Linked DNA regions of Homo sapiens. The protein of the gene in region 3 interacts with the protein of the main gene of each other region in a biochemical or structural test. Each region holds a gene or a part of one and is shown on either strand. Other genes may lie near its edges.

Region 1 (8,674 bases), on a different chromosome or scaffold from region 3:
CTTCATTTATTAAGAGAGTTCTCACTGGCTAAGCATTTCACAGGCATTATCACATTTGATTCTCATCACAACCCTGGAAAATGGGTATTTCATCCATAAAAGATGAGAAAAATGTGGCTTAGAGAAATTAAATAACTTGCTTATGGTTATCCAAGTTGGGCTTTGACTTTGTAATCCATGTTTCCTCCTTCAGTTTGCCTGCTATGTTCGCTGTTAAATTTCTCAGGTCTTCAGTGCTTCATGGATGTGCTCTTAGCAGTAGATTTCAGTGAAGTGATTACCATTTCTGATTTGGACTTCATATTTCTGCTAATACAACATATGACAGCTTATGCAGTACCTTTTTAGCAAGCAGAGCCTATGTTGTCTTCCATGACTTTTGTGTATCCCCAAAACCTAGGTGTCATTCACAAGAACTTTCAACAAACCAGGTCTCTCCCACATTAAATATACATAACTTATTTCTTGAACCCAAACACAGAACCAGACATTTACCTATTTTGAAATGGTATCTTTTTGTTTTGGTTTTCCACCCTTCCAGCCTAGAACAATCTATTTAAATCCTGATTCTGTGAGCTCACCAGTAAGCCATCTACAGAGAATAAGCAGGTGATACAATCACACAGATATCCTTTGGGGAGATAGAGGCTCAGGAGGCAAACTGATAATTTCAGAAGAATTTAGAGCCCACCCACCTAAATTCCCCAGAGAACATCACATAGTCTTTTGAGATGAACTTAGAAGACTCCTTCCCTCCTGGAGAGACGCCTTGGAAGAACTAGACTCTTCCAGGAAGCTCTCCCAGGGCAGGGCTGAAAGGGAAATGCTGAGACCTAACAAACAATAAAGACAATGCTTGGAAGGGAGCATCTGTGAAAAAAGCAAGCTCCTCCCTCTGAGAATAATTCCAAAGGGTGTCTCCGATCCCAGCTTTCAGACCTCCACCCTTGATTACTCAGACTTGACACTAGCCTTCTGAGACCAGCCCTAACAAGGGGGTTTCATCTGGGAGCACTTCCCTGACCTTACAACTGTTTCCTCTGCCACCCCAGACAAGATGTCTGCTATCTCTGAATCCAGTTGTTATTTAAAATGTCAAGTGACAAGGGCGGGCGTGGTGGCTCATGCCTGTAATCCCAGCACTTTGGGAGGCCGAGGCGGGCGGATCACTTGGGGTCAGGAGTTCGAGACCAGCCTGGCCAACATGGTGAAACCCCGTCTCTACTAAAAATACAACAAATTAGCCAGGCATGGTGGCGCACGCCTGTAGTCCCAGCTACTCGAGAGGCTGAGGCACAGAATCACGTGAACCTGGGAGGCGGAGGTTGCAGTGATCTGAGATCACTCTACTACATTCTAGTCTGGGTGACAGAGCGAGACTCCATCTCAAAAAAAAAAAAAAAAAAGTCAAGTGACACAGTAAAGAGGTATGAAAGCATGAGACTAGAGACTTCCTATTAGATCATTGTTGATCACGTAGAAGATACTATGATAAATCACAGTGATTTTTTTGTTAGTTTTCTACATATACAACTTTTTAAAGAGAACAGCCTGGTTTTATGAGGAAGAGTAGGGAAAAGCTAATATAATAGAACCTGTTTGAAAGCTGAAGTTAGCAATGATTCTCAATTCAGAAAAGGAAAGCAACAGAATCTAGGAGTATTTGTAAGGAGCTTCTGAGAGCTACACATCCCCTCCAGCCCTCTTATGGGTAAACAACTCTGTCATCCAGAGCCACCTTCACTAAAAAAAAGTGGCTTTTTTTTTTTTTCAGTCTGTGGGTTCAGAAAAAAGAAACAAGAAACAACCCACTGGACTAGAGAGATAAACCTTTAAGCCATAAGCCCCTTGCTCCACTGCTTTAGTCTACCAGGAGTTTGACTAGAGGAACGGGCTCCTATGGCTGTGGACATTATCTAGCTGGATTCTTGTTGCAATTATCAAGCCTTGAGCAGTCATGCTCATGGAGGCTTAGACTAGGAATGCAAGCTACGATCAAGACAACAGACCTACCTCAGAAACTAACCTTGCTAGTGTCACCCTTCCTAACAAGAACATGAACCTACTTCCTCTCCTTGGTCCTCTGCCTTTTAAAGGCAGTGCTGTTTTTTCCAGGGATCTGAGGTCTAGACATGGAACAAGTATTTTGGCTACATACCTTTTTGTTTGATTTTATGACAATTCTTCTAAGCCTGTATTGCAAAGTGCTATAACACAGTTGCTTTAGGAGTAAAAAAAGTGAATGAAAACAGTTGTGTGTGTATTAACCTACAAAGTACCTCAGAGAAACTATAGACACCTGGGCTTCACATCACTATAATCCCTGGTATAGAGTAAGTTCCAGATTTCATGTCACTGGTAAATAATGGCACTCAGAAAAAAAAAAATCAAAAATGGAATCATGATAATTATTTGAAGTACATATTATTGGAGAAGTCAACATTATTTAAACAATTTCCACATAAATACTGAAGCCACCTAAAATCTTTTAATTTTTAGCAACTTGTGTTACACATTCTTAAAGAATATTATTAAATTCTCAAAATATTGGTTGTTGAGAGCTATAAAACAAACTGTATTCAACTCAGTTATTTCATTGGATTTGTTTTTTGAATATTTAATAAAATAGTTCAAACACCTAGAAAATATAGCAGATACTTATGTATACTCGAATCAAATTATATTAATATGCCCTATATCCATGAAGTTTAGTGAATTTTCCCAAATTCATCTCCAATATCAATTCGATTTTCGTTATTAAAATTAGAATGTTTTCAAACCGAAGGGGAGAGACTGATGGCAATGATAAATGTATTTGTGATATGTAGTTCAGGTTTGGATACTGCCTTCTACCTATGTCACATAGGCTGAGTGAGCTACAGAGGCACACCACTATCTGGAGTATCTAAGCAATAAACACGCTGAACCCAACACACTGGCCAACCACTCCTTCACTCTACAACAGGCTTCATATACTCTCCTGTGTTAAAGATTTTGGTAACTGCCTAAATTTTTGTTTCATTGGGCCAGTAAACCCTTTATGAATTACTACATGGCAAACATTTTTTAAAATAAAACAAAAATTCTAATAGCCCCAATCTCCCTGACCCTAACTACAAGAAAAAAAAAAAAGCCTACAATTTCATTGCTTTGCTTAAAATAGGATGTAGATATAAAATCTTTTTACAGAAAAGCATCTTTGTTCCCTTTTAACAGTGACAATCTATACACTGCCTTAATTGGGCCCCTGTATTTCTCAGCATGAATTTCATTTTTTACTGAAGATTTTCTTTAAAGCAGGTAAAACCGGTTTGTTCTTTAAAAAAAAAATCAATAAGAAAAACACTCCAGAATGAGGAGCAGGAAAATAATGCATGATAGTAAGGGGATCTCTTCAAATAAGATGATTTAATCGGTCCTCAAAGAGTTTCTAACACAGGGGCCAATCACCCAGAAGACAAACTAGCAAAATCAGTTCATGCCACAGAGCCTTTGCATTTCAATCCTTCCACACATATTGACTGGAGACTCACAGAGAAATGGTGCCTTTGCTACAGCCACCCCTTGTTCATCAGCACTGATGAGATTTGGGGAGAGCACCCAGAAATCACTAACTCTGTTTTTTAAAATACTAAATTAAAAAAAATAAAGCCAAACCTTACCAGAAAGGAGCAAGCTGACTCCACAGAGAACTAAGCTGGCTAAAGAGTCCATGCTTCCCCAAATCTCTCCATCCAGTTTCCACAAATGTGCATGAGGTCCCAAGGATCCTTTCAAAAACCCAGCGGTTTGTGACTTTCCATTAGCATCGTCCTACTACGTCTTGTTTACAAGTTAGAGGCAAGAAGGAACAGCACAGAAGCAGGCTGTAACAGTCTCATTTCTGTCTGAGCACAGGGAGTTTTAAGTTCCTTTTTCCTGTTTCCTTTGTAGATTAGGATGGGAAAGGCTGTATCTTAAAGGCATTTGGTATCAGCAGGGCTGGGGGCACTCAAGCCCTATCCATCTCGCAATTCATCAAAACACTTATCTGTTGCTGTTGCTTCTGCTGCTGCTTTTGCTGCTGCTGTAGGGGCAGAGGAATTTTTGTTGGAAGTGTGGGTCCCGGTCAGCATTTTCAGAAACAATAGGGGTATCCTCTCATAGGCGGGAAACTGAGAATAACAAGCCCTCCACCTATGTATGGTATGCGATGATGACCAATCCTTCTCAGACTTCTAACAGCTCTCCCGGGGCTACTGGGATCTCTGACAGAAGGAGCTTTTGGGTGTGGGAAGCCGTTTTGGCTTTTGTTTTCTCATTTTAACCCACATGGTTTGAATTGGGAGAAGAAGGTTTCCGTGATGAGAAAATACAACCTGAAAAGCAATTAATTTCAGTGAGCACCGGTGAGGTCAATGCTCAATGTAGCCCCAAGAGACCAGAGTCCAAAATTGTTAGCCTGTTTTCTTTCACACAGATGGCCTGTTGGTTGGCCATTAGCCCAAAGATACCCATGTTGCCGGCTATAGCTTTAATTTTCATTAACAATTCATCTAAAGGTGATCAAATTTCTTGAAGAAGTTGGCATAGAAGGATTTTGGTAATGAGAAAGATTTGGTAGTCATTGAGCAATGGTGTTTCAGAAGCAAATTATATATAACATTTAAAAACTAATCTGTGTAAAAACACAAACATACAGGATTAGATTGGGATAAAAATGGTGCTCATGAGAGCAAAGAGAGTTCATGGACCAAAATGAAAATAGCCATGGAATGTACAATATCTAGAATGAGGTCAGAGACCCTACACTTATCCAGATAATTACTCCACAATATGAATTATGACATTAGATTAGAGAGTATACACTTTGCTCATCATCGACCTTCATGCCTGAGGAAATCATTATACTCCTCCTTTTCCTACCCACCAGAGGAAAAGGCAGATGCAGCTAGTCTTGACTAATTTCTGTCCCAGGTTTTATCACATCGATGATGATCTTAAGAACCAATTAATGTTTCCAGTTTGCAGGTGTGAAAAAGCCCAGGTTCTGTCTGCAAACAGAACTGGGTTCAAATACTGGCTCAGCCACATGTGTAGCTGAGAAAAGTTACTTAGTCTTTTTGAGCCTCAGTTTCAACAGCTGTGAAATGGCAAAAATATCTCCTTCCCAGGTGTTTTGAGAGGAATAAATGAGGTTTAAAAATATAAAACCATTTGGTACTATGCCTAGTTCTTTGAAGGTTCTCATTAAATGTTAATAAGTTTATTTTCTTTCATCTTTCCATTCAGTCTCAATTTAAATTCCAAGAGCTTCTACTAAAAAGCTATTTTCTATTCCTATGAGATGACTTTAAATTTGTCATCACGAAAAAAAAAAACAAAAACAGTGGGCCTGGCACAGTGGCTCACGCCTATAATCCCAGCACTTTGGGAGTGGATCACCTGAGGTCAGGAGTTTGAGACCAGCCTGGCCAACATGGCAAAACCCCATCTCTACTAAAAATACAAAATTTAGCTGTGCTTGCTGGCGTGCACCTGTAACCCCAGCTACTCTGGAGGCTGAGGCAGGAGAATTGTTTGAACCTGGGAGGCAGAGGTTGCAGTGAGCCGAGATCGTGCCACTGCACTCCAGCCTGGGTGACAGAGCAAGACTCTGTCTAAAAAAAAAAAAAAAAAAAAGAAAAAAAAGAAAGAAAAATGAAGTTCCACACAGGCTAAGTTACTTGCTCTGCTGTGAGTAGCAGAGGTAATAATATCTGAATCCTGAGCTCTGGACCTCCAATTTTTCCCTTGTTTCATAGTTGAAAAGTAGATCAAGAGTAATGTAGGACATCACAAACACCAGCAGGGTACACCTAGACCTTACAGAAGTATTTGAAATGAAACTTTGACAGATAAGAATAGTTTGGTGACACTGAGAAGTGCGGTCAGTTCTTAGTGTGCTTCTGAAATAACTAATGTCAGGATCGGTGGGTGCTGTATTAATTCACTTCAGGAAAATGAAAGGGGCCTCCTCATGAGTCAAGCTCATTCCATTTAATTTGATTTTTCCAGACATACCTACAGTAAAAGCATAAAGAAAACCAAACCAAACTAAACAAACAAACAAGGCTCTTGGCTGATTCTTCATTTTCTATTTCCTGCTTTTTGCACTCAATACATGAAAAACACTATAGACAACATTAAAAGTCTTTGAGACTAATTAACAAAGGTATCAATAGATAACAAAACGGTTTTTCTGAAAGAGGTGGAAAATAACTTACATAATACTACTATACACTGGTATCACATGTCAAGAGGTCAACATCACAAACACAAAGCAAAAGCCTTGTATGCATACCCTTTGGCCCAGAAAATCCAGTTTTTTTTTTTTTTGAAATAGAGTCTCACTCTGTCGCCCAGGCTGGAGTGCAGTGGCACTATCTCGGCTCACTGCAACGTCCGCCTCCTGGGTTCAAGCGATTCTCCTGCCTCAGCCTCCTGAGTAGCTGGAATTACAGGCGTGCACCACCACACCCGGCTAATTTTTATACTTTTTAGTAGAGATGGGGTTTCACCATATTGGCCAGGATGGTCTTGAACTCCTAACCTCATGATCCACCCCCCCCCCCCCTTGGCCTCCCAAAGTGCTGGGATTACAGGTGTAAGCCACTGCGCCCCACCAGAAAATCCATTTTTATGATATACACCAAGCCAAAATCAAATATGTGCCCCCAAATTTGTGTATAAGGACATTATAGAAGCATAGTTGATAATAATCAAAGCCTAGAAATAATCAAAATGGTCAACAAAAATGGATTATTTATTAAAAATCATGGTATACAATGAAGTTCCAGACAAGTGTTCAAATACTATGGTGAAATCAGATTGACATAAAAAGATGTGAAAATGTTTATGGTATACTGTTGATTGGGAAAAAAACACAATTTAAACAGAATGAAATTTATACACACTGAAATACACACCACAGATATACAACAAATAAATATCAAAGCGTTGAAAGTGACTATTTCTGAGTTGTTGGAAAACATAATTTTTATTTTCTTTTTTATACTTTTCTATAATTTTAACACTTTTAGAAATAACGAACATATATGTAAAAATGAAGAAGACTGAGGGGACGTCCTTGAGAAAGTTGACCCAGGGCAATAGGATGTATACTTTAAAACATCCACTGGCAAATAAGAAACAGAATCCAGGCTACCATATGACCCAGCAATCCCACTGCTGGGTATACACACCAAAGAAAGGAAATAAGTACATCAAAAATACATTTACACTCCCATATTTGCTGCACCACTGTTTACAATACCTAAGATATGGAAGCAACGTAAGTGTCCATCAATAGATGAATGGATAAAGAAAATGTGGAACATCTACACAGCAGAGTACTATTCGGCCATAAAAAAGAATAACATCCTGTCATTTGCAACAACATGGATGGAACTGGAGGTCATTATGTTAAGTGAAATAAGCCAGACACAGAAAGACAAACATCACATGTTCTCATTTATTTGTGGGATCTAAAAATCAAAACAATTGAACTCAGGGAGATGGAGAGTAGAAGATGGTTACCAGAGACTGAGAAGTGTTGTGGGAGGGTGGGGGAGGTGGTGAGGATGGTTAATGGGGACAAAAAAAGCTACTTAGAAATAATGAATAACACCTACTATTTGATAGCACAACGGGGTGACTATAGGCAATAATGACTTCATTGTATATTTTAAAATAATGTAATTGCATTGCTCATGACACAAAGGATAAATGCTCGAAGGGATGGATACCACCACATTCTCCATGATGTGGTTATTTCACATTGCATACCTGTATCAAAACATCTCATGTACCCCATAAATATATACACACCTGCTATGTACCTACAAAAATTTAAAATTAATAAATTAATAAAATAGGATAATTTTAAAAAGAAACAGAATCCAGATACATAAAGTGTGGCCTCCAGGAGGTGACCAAGAAGATGGGGTGTCAGCCACCTACAGTACAGCCCGGACATTCTGTCTTTCACTGGTCTGTGGGCACTGAGCCACCAGAGCCATCCCATCTGACTTCTTAAGGACATTAATGAACTTTTTTGTGAACCCACTGTACATAACAGTGGCTAGCAGAAAAGGAAGGGTCAGGCTAGGCATGGTGGCTCACGCTTATAATCTCAACACTTTGGGAGGCCAAGGAGGGCGGATCACGAGGTCAGGAGTTCGAGACCAGCCTGATCAACATGGTGAAACCGTGTCTCTACTAAAAATACAAAAATTAGCCAGGCATGGTGGTATGTGCCTGTAGTCCCAGCTACTCAGGAGGCTCAGGAGAATTGCTTGAACTTGGGAGGCGGAGGTTTCAGTGAGCCGAGATCACACCATTGCACTCCAGCCTGTGGGATGGAGTGAGACTCCATCTCAAAAAAAAAAAAAAAAAAAGAAAAGGAAGGGTCATCAACAATTAAGTTTTGGCCTTCAGCCAGGACACCACAGTTAAAGGGACAACATCCACTCTGGTTTGGCTGTGGAAAATACCTGACCCTCTCCAAACCCCATTTACTCTAAACCCTCTCAGCTATTGCAGCATTTTTCTTTTTCTTTTGTTAACATTGAAACGGCAAGGACTATATTATTCACCGTAGGAAGAGACACAGAAATAGAAGATGTTGTCTCTGCTTTTGAAGCTCATAATTACA
Region 2 (8,440 bases), on a different chromosome or scaffold from region 3:
GCGATATCTCCAGAGCCCCTAGTCCTCGACCACTATTGATGCCTCAGTGGTTATCATGATAGAATTCTTTGTGATGTTTTAAATATTGTATGGAAACTACAAAATCAGAAATCTGTTGTTTCCAACTAGAATGTTAAAAAGAAAAAAAGTTTACACATTTTATGATACATGATTTTATTTACACAACTGATTTTCTTAGTCACCTTGATTACAAAAAAAGGAACATGATCTGGTTTAATGACCTTTCATAAATAGATTTTACAAATTTTAATAACTGACAGATTACTACTTAATACTCAGTAATACTTAATACTTAGTAACTTCTGCATTTACGTGTATGAAAATTCCAGTAGAGCTAATAAGGATGGGGACTTTTATAACTCAGGAATAGACAATTAGGTTATTGGTCAAGGATAAATTGGTCAAGGATAAATTCCCCATCACTGGGTCAGCTGTTTAGACCTGGAGTTCTTACCCTCCTGAGAACAAACCTGTTGCAGCAATTCACACTTACTGTGTAGGCATTTTTAATAATTTGAGAAAGTTTATTCTTATTTCTGCATTTAGTAAGACTATCATTAAGCATATCTGAAAACCAAAAGTTTACCATGTCTATAGATATTTGTAAAAGAACTTATCACAGTGTATCTGAAAAACAGCCCAAATTAGAGCCAGGTTACGTGTCCAATAAGCATTTTTCAAACTCTCCCTCTGGGTGTGTGCGCACACACCACAAGGCTCTATTACACACGCATCCAAGCCTTGGCCTCACAAAATGCCACAATTTTGCTGTTTTTGTGAAATGCCTATATAAAATACAGTATTTGAATGAGACTATTTTAAGTCCTATCAGTGCTTTAAGTCTGAAGAGCAGGCAGTGTTTTGGTAATCCGACTCTTTTCTGCGAAGTTACAGTGCTGACAACACAGCCAGAAGAGCTGCTGAGACTTCCCAAAAGCTGCCCCCACAAGACTGGAGGAGTGTTGTGCATCTGTGACCACAAACAAGCAATGAAGAATGACAAGAAGCTTATGAGTCATGGTCAGAATCTAAGAAACAGAAACATCTTGTAGCAGCATTAAATTACAAACACAGGAAGAGCTGATCCATGGGCCTTTCACACAGGCTCTATAAGAGCCAAACACCATCTTTTTCACATCAGAATTGTAATCAGAGGTGTAGCAGTCCTTGGTCATTGTCATTGCTACTTCTAACACAGCTAGCTAGCCTGTCCCTTTATGAGTAAGTTGATAAGATTCAAATTAAAGTGAGTACAAGCCCTACCTGCTCCTAACAGGTAGGATGAGCCACTGCTTTCGCCTCTACTTGGCTGTGGGGTGTGCTGCAGGCTGGTGGCAGGTGGGATTCACAGCAGCAAAGCCTCTGCTGTCAGCAATTCTGGGACTCCAACAGCCCCCTTTCTTCATACTGTTCTCATCAGGGGTAGTGGCTGCTCAGTACCGAACACGTGAGGATGATGTGGTGGGCCCGGGGGACAAATGTGTCTTGTGAGCCCTCTTCCCTGATACCACCATCCACATAGTAAAGATGGCATGGAATCTCTCCATTGTGCTAAATCTAGGAATCATCTTAATCATGATGAAAACCAAATGTCTTCCTAAGGAAAGGTTGCATGATTTAAAAAAAATCATTCTCAAGATCTCGAATGCTGAGCCCAGGCCCATCCTCGGGGCCCCTCTTCCCCTCCAGCCCTGGAGGGGCATTGACACTACCCCCAGGCCCCCCCCGCAGTCTCTCATTCTGAATAAGGACAGGTCATCAGGGCCAGCATTTTTCCTACTGCCTTTTTTGTGTGTGTGCTTCATGTTTAAATTTTTTTGCCTTGTTTGGCGGCAACTAGAAAAATCCAACAGTTCAGGTCCAATTTCATACACCAGGTAGTAAGTGTTGGACCCACACATGTGAACACAGAATGTTGGTGGTCACTGATGGACACAGACCAACACTGGGTGCTGCTGGGCACTGAAGAGAAAGGAATGCTTAACCACTAAGACTCAGAGCTCTTACCCGGTGTGGCATGTCTGCTAGGAGGGAAAATCACCGGCTATCAGAAGTAAAACCACCTTGGAAGTTAAAACAAACTACCAAAAACGAGTCTGCCACCTGGGAACTGAACACGGCTCGGCCAATGTGACGTTCACAAAGAAAGGGCCGGTAGACTTTCCATTCTCAGCATGTTTCTTCCCCTTGTGAGTCCATTACCTTTCACAAAGAAATGTTAACTATCAAACGTGTCCATTAATTTTGCCGCTGAGGGTGAAAGCATCCAGTTAGCATATACACTATCATTTGGATATCTTGGAAACCCAGTGTTAGTGCCATCAGCTCTCGTGAGTGGTACAGGACTCTCTCCAGGCCAGTTCGGGTCTGACATGCCTAAAAATGAAAACAGATCATTTGTTCTGCACTGAAGAACCAAAACTTCAAGTGCAGACAGTAAGGCCTTGGCAAAACTCCCTTTGATGTTCAAACCAAACTCGTGGTTTCTGTGCCAATTATATTAATGGTTTTGTGTTCCAGGTTTCCAAAAACACTGTTATAGTTAGGGGAAATATCATGTGCTCTCTTGGTAAATGTAACTTAACAGACACTACCAATTTTGACTTTTATGAACTTGAGACTCTCTAATCTGATGTATATTTGTCGAACTGCTTAACTCTTTTTCTAAGGCAGTGTAGGGCAACAGCACACTGCTGCACTCAATGGCTTACTGCAGCGGAAACGTTCTATAAAACATTCTCTAACGTAAAGGAGGCACTCGTCTGTTGTCTGAGCCTACAACGGAGAAGAGGACCTTCCAAATCGAGGGTGCACACGGGCCAGCCTCATAGCATCGTCAGCACAAATGGAGTGTGGCACTAGACACAAAGCCAGTGAGGAGTCAGTGAGTCAGGAGGCATGCAAAAGGAACCGTCTCAGCTTGAAAAAAATGCTTGAAACTCCAAGATTTCAAACAATCAATGATGAAGTTAGGAAACAGAAAAAATTTCTAGTATTTAATCAAAGACAAAAGAAGGAGTTTTGGCAAGAACCATATTTACTGTCCATTGTAAGACCACAGCACCACAGACCATGTTCTTTCAAAAAGCAACTGCTCCAGCTTTAGCACTGACTTCATAAGTGACAACCGTCCTGAAGGTGGGTAAGGGAAAGGATGTGAAAACAGCAGTGGGGGTGCGTCCTCCCAGGGCCAGCCAGCTCCTGCAACCTCGCTACCCCTGATGGAGGACATGTGGCTGGGACTGGGGCTGAGGCTTGGCCAGTGGCTGCTCGCCAGTGCCGGGTGGCCTCTGAGAGGCACCTGCCTGCCCAGGAGGGGTCTGGGGGAACCTGGCTGTGCTCCCAGTGCAGGCTGAGTGGTGCTGGTGGCTCCTTTCTCAACTGAATACCTCCCCAGATTTGTATATTTATCCACTTAGTTAAAGTAGAAGTACTATGACTTGATTCCCACCCCAGAAGCGCCTTATTCAACCTGTTCTTGGTCTCCCCTGAGAGTTCCGCCCTGATCTGTTTTTTCCTCTACCATCCTAAGTTGCTGGGCAATGTGGTAATTACACTTATTTTCACATCCTTTTAGAAAAACATAGTTGCAATAATGCCTAAATGTAAACTGGATGCAAAGTCAGACATTTACAAATAAAAAGGTTCAGAGCAGACTTTGGTTTTGTTCAGACCAGAAACATTTTTAAAAAGCATCACAGAGAGGAAGGATAGTGCAAAGGGGACAGCGGTGCTAGAATCTAGTAAATGCATGGGAAATTCTACCATAGAGTTTGTTTTCAATCCATGTGGAAGGGAGGGCTCGAGGGAGGGGGGCATTATTACAGTCCACCAGCGGTGTCTCCTCCTCTGAGAGGCCGTCGTCATAAATCAGGGAGTCAGATGGAGTGGACGCCGCAAGGTCCAAGTAGTCCTGGAAGACAGAGATGGCCGGTCACTCCAAGCCATGTGCCACAACTAGATACAACTCAGTATACAACAAGCCATCCTCAGGGCAGAGGCTCTGGCTGTGTCTCCACCTCGCACCAATCTCCTGACCTCTCCAAGAGACCAGGGCCAGGCTGCATAGAGCTCCCAGGACTCCTGGCTGGCCTGGTCCTGCTCTGAGGTCCCCATCACTCCCCTGGGTGTTGTCTATTCTGTCTCTTCCCCTGGAAAGTCACCTCCCTGGGGAAAGAAATGTGCTCCCTCAGCGTCTTATCTCCAGGGCCTGGAGGGCAGCCTTGGGGGACGCCTCATCTAGCTGCCCCTGGCCCAACCCGGAGATGGGCAGCACGGAACCAGCCCGCTGACAAACCCTTGGGCTCTGGGGGAGCCCACTGCAGCCACATGCCAGGACGCAGCCCCAGCCTGCAGGATGTTTTCCAGCTTTCCCCAAGGACCCCTGCCATCTAGAACGTCACGTCAGGGCTGAGTTCTGAAATCTGACAGCGCTGTCAGGGTGCACAGGACCCTGCTACAGGCACGGGCTCCCCAGCACGAGGGGCCACTGGCGTCTGCTCCTTTCAATGCCCAGCTTGAATGTGCACAGAGGGGCCCAGCGTTTTCCCGGCTGTTTCTCAGCACTGTTCTAGGAAGGCCAGCACCAGTGATCGCTTCTGTTTTGAACAACGCTGCATTCTCAGGACTTGAAGTTTTCATCCAAGCGAGACAGTGATGTGAAGTTTTCCTATGGGGTCCTAGGTCCTGCATCCCGCTATCCAAGTCGGAAGAAGTGACAACTCAGTAAATGTGCCAATGTTAAGACAAGGCCTGTGTGTAAACCCCGTGAGGGCAGGGCTGTGCTGGTCTTGTTTATCTGCATTCCCAGCCTCTGAGACATAGTATGGGTCCTAGCAGCTGCCTGATGAATATTGGTTGAAAATGTGTAGACCTCACAAACTGTACTTCCAGGCACACAGGCTGACTCTGGCCACCCCCCGATATGCTTTGTTTGGCCTGCGTTCGGCTCTGGGAAATTTAAATGAATTGTTAACAATAAAAACTGGGAGACAACATAAACCTCATAAAATTCAGAAGACCCAGCCCATTCCTGGCTCCTTTTTCTGCAGGCCACAGGTACTCCAGCAAGGAACCCTTTGGAGGGGGCTGGCTGTTTGCCACAGTCTCCACTGCTCCTTACTCACTGCCCTCCTCCAGCCGGACCCCCCTCTGGGCATCTGAATTTTGGGCACTTGCTTTAACTCAACTTTCTCATTTTCCATTATGGAAAACTATTTCTTTTTGGCTTTGGAATATTTTCCTCCCATGCCTGTCTGTAGAGAGCTTTTCCTAAATGTCAAGAATCTTGGTTTCTTCATGACTTGAAAAGAAGCCCAAGCGGCCTGGCCTGAGAAGGGTTCAATCTGCTGTCTGCATGCAGGGGAGAGCATGACTCTCTCTCTCTGCACAATCCCACTGTGGCCCCACACTGGGAACTCTGAGGGCTAAAACTACTGCCCTGGGGTGAGGCTGGAGTCTCCCCAAGCCACTTTCAGCTTGTGGGAATTGGACCCAGGCACTCACTCTCCTCTTAACCATCATCTTCTCCAGGTCTTTGCTGATGTCCGCAAACACCGGCCTTTTGTCCGGCTCCTGCTTCCAGCATTGCAGCATCAGGCGGTACCTGGTGGGAAGAGCAGACAGGCCAATATGATCCAAGCAGGGCCAGGTCTCAGAAGGACAGCCCACCACAGCCATCGCACCCTGCCCTGTACCCTGGGCCCAGTGTGCTCTGTCTCCAACTCCAAAGCTATTTCTGCATCGCTGACATCTCTGAGCCTCGTGGGACTGGGGCATGGCCTGTTGCAGGATCCCAGCCCGTGGGCCACTGTGCTCAGGTCTCTCAGAGCTGTGGTCCAGAATCCTACAAGCTTCCCTTCCCTCCAAGGGAGATTCATTTTTACTTCCCTTGCAAAGACACTGGTAAACAGCTCACTGGATACTATGCTTGCTCTGGCAGCTAAGTGAGAAGTGCCAGTCCTTAAAACTCTCAAGAAGAATGAATTGATTGAGGGCTTTTAGGTGTGGAGACAGACAAACAAGAACCTTTGGCAATCACACGTCTGTCCTGCACCGTCCTTGCTTGCCTGGGTGCCCAGGCAGACCACAGCGCTCCAGCTGGCCACCAGCTGGGGGCCCAGGGAGGTGGTACCTGGCTTCTCGGCCCAGCATGCCCCCTCCACGCCCCAGCAGTGTGCACACTCTGTGGAATGCATGTACCATGCATCTCTGCCTCTGGGCAGCCCTTTCTCATCTGTTCTCAGCCTGGTTTCTAAGACCATCTCCCCTGAGAGTGTAAAGGTTTCAACCTCTCAGGTTGCAGCCCAGGCTGCCCCTGCCTGGCTCTGCACCTCCACTCAGGCACCCCTTAACACGTGCCCCCTGGGCCATCTGGAATTACCTTCTCCTCCCTAAGTGTCCTGCTGGGACAGCTCTCAGCCCTTGAGCTTGCATTGCACCAGTCTCTGCTCTCACTCATTTTTATAAGACCCCCTAGGAAGCCCACCAGCCCTCAGTGGGGTAGGACCCCCAGCATCTACTGCCACACCCAAGGATGGCTCTCTAACCTCTGCCCTGCCCACTCCCCACCCCCCACTTCTCCTGGTTTCTCCTGGGGCTGCTCTGGATGGGGAGGGAATGCACACAGATGTCCCCTCCCTTCCCAAGTGAGGCTGGGCCAAAGCCAGTCCCCGCTCACATCTCCTCGCTGCAGTTGTCTGGCCTCTCCATCCGGTGGCCGGTCTTCAGAAGGTTGAAGAGCCGCTCAGGAGGAATCCCAGGATAGGGGTTTCCCCCTAGGGTCACGATCTCCCACAGCAGGACACCAAAAGACCATCTGCAGAGAGTGAAAGGACCAGTGAGTGGCTCCACCTGGCCCTCACAGAGCCCTCCGGGGGGCCCAGATATCCACCCCCACCACCAAGCACCTGCTGACCCTGTCGGCTTCAAGCACAGATGCTCACAGATGTCAGCCTGGGTCTGGCTGCTCAGATGGATGTAGCATGAAGGTGGGGAAGGGCTGCCTGCCTGCCTGGCCCCTACTCCATGAAGCTGAAGTCCTTGCCCAAGCCACTCCCATCAGAGCAGCCACACGCACAAGGGACACATGAGGCTTAAGATGAATTCATGATTAATGAATTAATGATACATTAATTAATATCATGAATTAATCTTAATAATTCTTAAGATTCTCACACTTAAAGCGGTGAGAATGCAGGCCACCAGACTCAGAGTGCCTTGTATAGTTCTTTTGCCATTTCTATGTGCTTGGAAAATTTCATAAAATCTTAGAAGGAAAAAAAGCTATAGAAAAACATTTTAACTGTGAAGGAAAACTCGCTTTGCAATGGGAACAAAATCATATCACAAAACAGCATCGCATGAGCCCATTTAGGGCAATAAAAAGCATACATGTGCACACCACGGAGCACACCAGAGGGCAGCCAGAGGTCACTGGGCGGTGTGGTCCAATGACATTCAGTCTCTTCTTTATGCTTTTCTCTGCCTTTTCCAACTAGCCTACAGTCAGCTTATATAATCGGAAAGCTGTTGTCCAATTGCTTATTCACAGCCCACAGTATTTAAGATGCACATGTTGGCCAGGCGTGGTGGCTCTCGCCTGTAATCCCAGCACTTTGGGAGGCTGAGGTGGGTGGATCATTTGAGGTCAGGATTCAAGACCAGTGTGACCAACATGGTGAAACCCTGTCCCTACCAAAAAATACAAAAAAATGAGCCAGGCGAAGTAGCACGTGCCTGTAATCCCAGCTACTCAGGAGGCTGAGGCACAGGAATCGCTTGAACCCAGGAGGTGGAGGTTGCAGTGAGCCAGGATTGCGCCACTGCACTCCAACCTGGGTGACAGAGTGAGACCCTATCCCCTCCCCCCACAAAAAAAGAGAGGCACATCACACCTCTGCTGACTGTAGAACACTTTAGAGGCAAGAATCCTGTGTTTTAAAAGTGATCAGCTCTTGTCATTGGACCTGGAAGAATGAGATTTTGGCTTCCACCTTTGAGCAGTTTGGGGCACACCAATCTATAAACTCACACAAGGCCATCTTCAGGTGGAGTCCCCAAGCTCCACTTGTGGGTGGGGGCAAGTCACTGGGTGCTCTGCCTGAGCCCAAAGCCCTACTCAGGACCACAGGAGGGTAACTGCTGGGCTGGGCCTGAGTCACCAAGGGACCCAGAGGGAGGCATGGGACTAGCAAGGGTGGGGGAGGCTGGGTTACTGGCCACCTGCTCGGCTCTCATGCTCTACCGGAGCTTTCAGAACTGCAGCCCGGCCTGGCCCAGCCATTTGCCTCACGAACACATCATGAAGGCCCCTCAGTGAGGGGGTCATTGCAGAGGGCTAGCACTGCAGACAGGTGCTCAGGGCCAGTGCAATTCCCTGGCCAAGCTGCACAGACGGGCGTCGTGGCCCCACTACATG
Region 3 (6,119 bases):
ACCAGCCTTGTATTCCTGGAATTAACCTTACTTAGTCATATTATGGTGCATAATTCTTTTTATATATTGGGGAATAATCCTTGCTAATATTTTGTTAATGATTTTTGATCATATTCACAGAGATTTCATCAGTAGTTTTCTTTTTTTTTGCTGTTTTTGTCTGGTTTTGATGTCAGAGTAATTTTACCTTCAAAATATGAATTGAGAAGTATTCCCTTCTCTTCCATTTTCTGGAAGCAATTGTATAGCATTAATGTTATTTCTTCAAATGATAGAATTCTCCAATGAAACATCTGAGCCTGGAATTTCTTTGGGGGAGGTAATTGTGAATTCAGTTTTCATAATAGTTATAAGGTTATTCAAATGATCAATTTCATATTGGCTAAATTGTGGTAGTTTGTACTTTTTGAGGAACTGGTCTATTTCATCCAAGTTGTTGTCAAATTTATATGTGTAGAACTGTGTGTTGCATTCCCCTATTATTCTTTTGATGTTTTCAGAGTCTGTAGTGATAAATTCTCTTTCATTCACAGACTAAAACCGTTTGTCCCATTAGTAAGACTATGGCAAACTACAGACAATTCATTTTTAACACTAATATGTCGATACTTAAATATTTTCCACAGATGCAGATGGTATATTTCACATGTGTTTGACATAGTGATTTCATATTATAATTTTTGTCGGTCTATAATTCCAATCATAAAAGGTAACAGGGTCAGGTTCATTACTTTTCCATATATAATTACAAGTAATAAAATGGCAAAATTAGTAGAAGGAATTGCAAGAAACATGAAGGTGGGATTAAAAGTATCTCTGTAAGATTGAAATGCATTTGAAGTTGTTCTTGAGCAAAATAACCAATGCTTCAAAATATAGCTTGAGTTTTAATAATAGTAACAAGTTGACATTTTTGCTGTAATTCATTTATGGTTACCTGAGAATCTGGACTTATTTCTCTGCAAATTAGCTTTGCCTTACTGGCTAACCCAAAGCCTCTCTAATGCTTTTAGAAGCTTGACTCTCTTCAAAGTCCTCTGTGCTAGATGTACTCCATTTATTTGCCCTTCCAGATCTCCCCCTCTAGTCTTTTCCATCCTCCTCTGTTCCCAGGAGGCTGACCTCCAGAACTGCATCAAGGAGCTCCCTTGCTCTCTGTCTTCAAGTTACTTGGGCCACTGGAGAATCCCAGCAGGAGACAGATAGGGGGAGCAGAAAAACGTTGGGTTATGAATGCCCCTCACTGCCTCTTAGTTGAGTCAGCAGGGCTGATTGCATTCCTCCACTACAGGCCACAGCTCCTAAAAGGCAGCCCTTGCACACAGCTCCCTCTCCAGATTCTGTTAGCTGTTCTTTCCCTTTCTCCCTTAATTGGCCCCAAGGCACTGCATTCTCCCTCCTGATTTCCCTAAACTCTGCCCACACCTTTGTAAATAGTCCCTTTAATAAACTCACCTTGAATTATCCAGTTTGATTGAGCCAATGTGTTTCCCTGATACATTTTACAAATGACAGTTTCCAAATCCCAAACATCAGACATATTCTGTCAATTGTCACAAAGCAATAATCATTTATTTTTTAAAGTCGTTTACAGGTATTTATAGGCAAATGGATTTCCACTTTAAGACAGATAAAGAATGTGAGATTAAAATAGCATGCAGACATTCCTTTTATTGTTTCCTTTTGCTTTAACTGTGTCTGTGGTATTTTTAAGTGCTGTATTTAACTACTATACTATTACAGTCAAATACTGATTATCCATGTGTACTGCTGACACCATTTACAGTCATTGCATCTATTTGTATCAGGAACTCTTGCTACCAAGTTAATACTCTGCTCAGCTAGAGTGAGACCACAGCCCTGCTCTGTCTCTGATAAAAGTGGTTAGACTACCCATACATTTCTACTGTCTATACTCATGCTGATCCCCTTTTTAAGGACAAACGATCAAGACCTAAGGTATATGGAAAACTGGTGAAAAATACATTAATTCTAGTTGTGTAAGAGGAAACAAATCCATCTAAAAAATTAATGGCAGTAGAAATAAAAATCATAAGCCTTTACAGTAAAATATTAGAGTGCAGTATGCTTGGTTTCTAATGATTTCTATCCAAAAGAAGTTTTATTTAAAACTTAGCAAATATATCACAATCACAAAGACTAAGTTGTATCTACATAGCCAAAATGAAATGGAGTCAAGGCAATATCCAGATAACTCAAGATTAAAAAAAAAAACAAAAAACATTTTTCTTGGAAAGGCAAGAAAAGGACATAAGTAGTTTTCTGCTACTCAAACCAAATCCACTTTTATCATCATTCCCTATATTCCAAAGTTTCAGTATTTTAGACTGAATGGTTTGGAGTCTAAACTATGTGAATGTTGATCTCAGGTGTGCCATTCATTCTGTGAGTATGGACACAGACTATAGAAGAAAAGCTTAATTTTTTACCTTAACTATACAGACTGGTTATCAATAACGACCTCTAACAAATGAAAAACTTGCTTTTTAGAGACTCATACTATAAGTTAGGACTGAAGTAGTCCTCCAAATTCACCTAGCCCATTTAGCTCATTTTATTGCCAAGGAAACTGGAACCCAAACAGATTCAGCAACTTGCTGAAGGTCACACTGGTAAGACTCAGCGTAATGCTTTTCTGTACACCATGCTTAATCACTCTGTTAGTTTACCAGTTGGTCTACATGTGGAAAATCTTTCCAAGTGCTTCATTCAATATGTTTTTTTTTCCTTCTGCATTTTGTCTGATCATATCTATACGAGGTGCTAAGGATATATGTAGGTGAGAAACTATGATTCAGTGTCAGCCAATCAAGAAGAAATTTTACTATAATTTCAAATAGATTCTGTACTTTTACTAAGAATGAAACCAATTTGAATAGTAAATATGAAGAATACTGGTTTTGTTTGCCCTCTTTTAAATCCATGCACTCATGAGGTTTTTTTTGTTTTTTTTGTTTTTTGTTTTTTGTCTTTTTAGCAGGAAGAGGGGGAGAATATAATGAAATCAGAAATGACTGATAGATTTGGCTTCTTCAGCTTGTCACATGCTGTATTTAGACAGTCTGAATAGCAAACACTGAGAAATGCTAGGCCAGAGGATTTGGGCCCCAATCCTTTTAACCAGCAAATGGGACAGTCCAATGAAACAGACAGCCATGTTAGTGGCTTTTGATTTGATTCCACTGACATACACACAGTTCGAATTCAATGTCATATTTATTTTAACATTGCAGTGAAAAATGCTGCTAAACAGAAAATGTAATAAAGTCAATAAGGCTCAAGAAAATTGCTTATTTTTTGTAGCAAGAAAAGCTTTTTTTTTTGGCAAATGGTTCTATAGTCATAGAACATGAAGATACTTAGAATTAATCTCCCAATATGAAAATGTCCCCCAAATTATCAAGTTGAAAGGCACATACCACTGCCCCAGCAGTTCATTCAAGTTGTCGTTAGCATGTGAAATTTTAGTTGTGCTTTTAGCTTGTTATCAATGCAATATGGCCTTAAAAAGTGACATCCGTGCATACATATAATTTCTTTTAAAATGACCAACCCTCTTCCTCTTTTCTGATTTTCATTTCTGAAGACTAATTTTTGTTAGTTCTTCATTTTATAGAGGACCTGGTCCATGATGGTCTTGGAAAGATGCACTTCACAGTTTGTGCTCTATTTTATCTACAAACAAAGTTTAAATTATCTTTGTGTCCTAATACAAAATGGGGTTTCTTGAAATATCAGTGTGATGGTGCTTCAATACTGTCATTTGTTGGAATGCAAAAGTGCTGGATTATTATCTTTTCTCACTGGTTGTTTAAGGCTTACTTCGCTTCCAGAGGAGATGATTGGCAAACTGTTATCCATATGGTATCTGATAAGGTGGCCGACATTATCAAATACATGATCCTTGGTCCTCACCTTGAAAAAGAAGTACAAATATATTTAGGTTAAATTATAGTAGTTCTCCTGAAAGATATAAATAATAAGGGGGAAAATGCCAGATATATCCCTAAAGTAGATACTTTGCTGAAAAAAGAAAAGGTACTTTTTTTTTTTTTTTTGAGACAGAGTGTCACTCTGTGGCCCAGGTTAGAGTGTAGTGGCACGATCTCGACTCACTGCAACCTCCACCTCCTGGGTTCACGCAATTCTAGTGCTTCAGCCCGAGTAACTGGGACTACAGGCACGTGCCACCATGCCTGGCTAATTTTTTTTATTTTAGTAGAGATGGCGTTTCACCGTGTTGCCCAGGCTAGTCTCAAACTCCTGAGCGCCAATGCCCACCTTGGCTTCCCAAAGGGCTAGGAGAAAAGGTGCTTTTAAACTCTGTAGTCCCTAGTCAACAATTTTCTCATTCCTCATTACCATTTTAAAGCAACCATTCCCATAAGTTAGGAAAATGGTAGGCACTTGTCACCCAATCCAAATTTGCAATCAGCCTCTTTGCAGTATTATTGTTTGGTATATTCTATGTCACTATCTCTATAACTATTTAACTGGTTTGTATACAAGCATGAATCCCAGGATTGTAATTATCTTCTGTTAACCAGAGTGCTTCCATATCACCTTGTCTCTGTCAGAAGCAGGCCTTTCTGGAGAAGTCCTACCTCCTATCTCTCTTTGGAGGCTCAGCATTCCTGTCTTCTCCAAGAAGCCTCCTCAGACCTTTCTAATAGGCATTCATGTGTCCTTCCCACAGACTTCATAGTAGCTGATTCACAGATATTTGTTGCATGGAACTTACTGTCGGCATGCCAAAGAAATTCAATTTTCTTATGGCATGCCTTCTATGGAATTCCCTTCCTAGTACCCTATGCATAGACAGAAGCTGTACATTACTATCCATTGTGGCTCTACCAGCTTGGTGGCCTGGTTATACAAGTGCTCCTGTTTGGAGGGTGGCTAGGAACCATCCAGGAAAGGGGAAGGCATGCAACAAGGCAGCACCTCGTTATGTATTTCTGCCAGCTCTCCTACAAGGGATTCTTGGAGTTCTGTCTAGATGTTGGTTTTTGCCGTATTAAAATCATGCATAATTACTGGAATAATTAATATAATTTGAATATGGACTATGACTTAGATAGTATTGTACAAATGTTAAGTTTCCTGATTTTGATCTCTGTACTATGGCTATGGAAGAGAATATCTCTGTTCTTAGGAAATACACATTCAAGGATTTACAGAAGAGGACACAATGGCACCAATTTGCTCTCAAATGGCTCCAAACCTCAAAAAGGTTTTCAACTCCTCCATCTCATTCCCATCCCACACCAAATCAGCTGACCAATCCTTCCATTCTATGTTCTTAATGCCAAGTCACTCTGCCTTCTTCTTTGTATTTCTTCTGCCTCAGGCTGTCACTACTTTTTACCTAGAAGCCTCTAATTACTCTCTCTGTCCCTGGTCTTTCCCCTTCTCTTTAATCAATCCTGTATACAAGTGTGAAATTAATCTTTCAAGTACAGAGATTGTAAGCAGGCCACTCTGGCTGAATGCCCCGTATGCTTTAGTTTGCTAGGGGCTAGGATAGGGAGGGGAGGTTACGCACAGAGAGTTTCAACTATTTTGAATTAAAAATAAGGAGAGTTCCTATAAAACTCTGGTTTTATGACTTATTTGAAAAAAATAAAATCTGGTCCCACTGGGCCTCTGCTCTGCATGACAGCGTTTGGTTGGAGCTGAGTGGTGACTGCCCCCTTACACAGGGTATGTGCCTTTTTTAACACAGCCCACTGTACCTTATGCTCGCTCTATCCCCTGCCCAGCTTTATTCACTTACAGTACTGGCCTAGTCCTGCAGACACTTGTGTTTGTAACTTCACCCACACAAGATTTTTCACTGTGGTAAGAAACATATAACATGAGATCTGTTACATATGTATGTATGTGTGTGTGTGTGTGTGTGTGTATATATATATATATATATACATCTGTTATGTAACAGTTAATACTGTACTATACACTTAACAGATTTTTAAGTGTACAGTACAGTATTGTTAACTGTTAAGTACAACGTTATACAGCAGATCTCTGGAACTTTTTCATCTTGCATGACTGAAACTTTATACCCATCAAACAGCAACTACCCATTTCCTTGAGAA

What was found.
Region 1: the proteins of SHC4 (region 3) and TEK form a complex in vitro, tested with the Homo sapiens proteins (one study listed by BioGRID).
Region 2: the proteins of SHC4 (region 3) and RET interact in a test that uses a peptide from one of them, tested with the Homo sapiens proteins (one study listed by BioGRID).

Annotation. Positions count from the first base shown.
Region 1 is NC_000009.12:27,104,631-27,113,304, reverse strand, and holds the start of TEK (angiopoietin-1 receptor isoform 1 precursor), read right to left. Parts: upstream 4,081-8,674; 5' UTR 3,715-4,080; coding exon 3,663-3,714; intron 1-3,662. UniProt on the Homo sapiens protein: Tyrosine-protein kinase that acts as a cell-surface receptor for ANGPT1, ANGPT2 and ANGPT4 and regulates angiogenesis, endothelial cell survival, proliferation, migration, adhesion and cell spreading, reorganization of the actin cytoskeleton, but also maintenance of vascular quiescence.
Region 2 is NC_000010.11:43,122,069-43,130,508, reverse strand, and holds the end of RET (proto-oncogene tyrosine-protein kinase receptor Ret isoform a precursor), read right to left. Parts: intron 6,839-8,440; coding exon 6,701-6,838; intron 5,627-6,700; coding exon 5,527-5,626; intron 3,935-5,526; coding exon 3,787-3,934; coding exon of another isoform or gene 3,755-3,786; exon of another isoform or gene 2,398-3,754; coding exon 2,240-2,397; 3' UTR 992-2,239; coding exon of another isoform or gene 858-991; 3' UTR 158-857; downstream 1-157. UniProt on the Homo sapiens protein: Receptor tyrosine-protein kinase involved in numerous cellular mechanisms including cell proliferation, neuronal navigation, cell migration, and cell differentiation in response to glia cell line-derived growth family factors (GDNF, NRTN, ARTN, PSPN and GDF15).
Region 3 is NC_000015.10:48,822,191-48,828,309, forward strand, and holds the end of SHC4 (SHC-transforming protein 4), read right to left. Parts: intron 3,937-6,119; coding exon 3,781-3,936; 3' UTR 1,551-3,780; downstream 1-1,550. UniProt on the Homo sapiens protein: Activates both Ras-dependent and Ras-independent migratory pathways in melanomas. Contributes to the early phases of agrin-induced tyrosine phosphorylation of CHRNB1.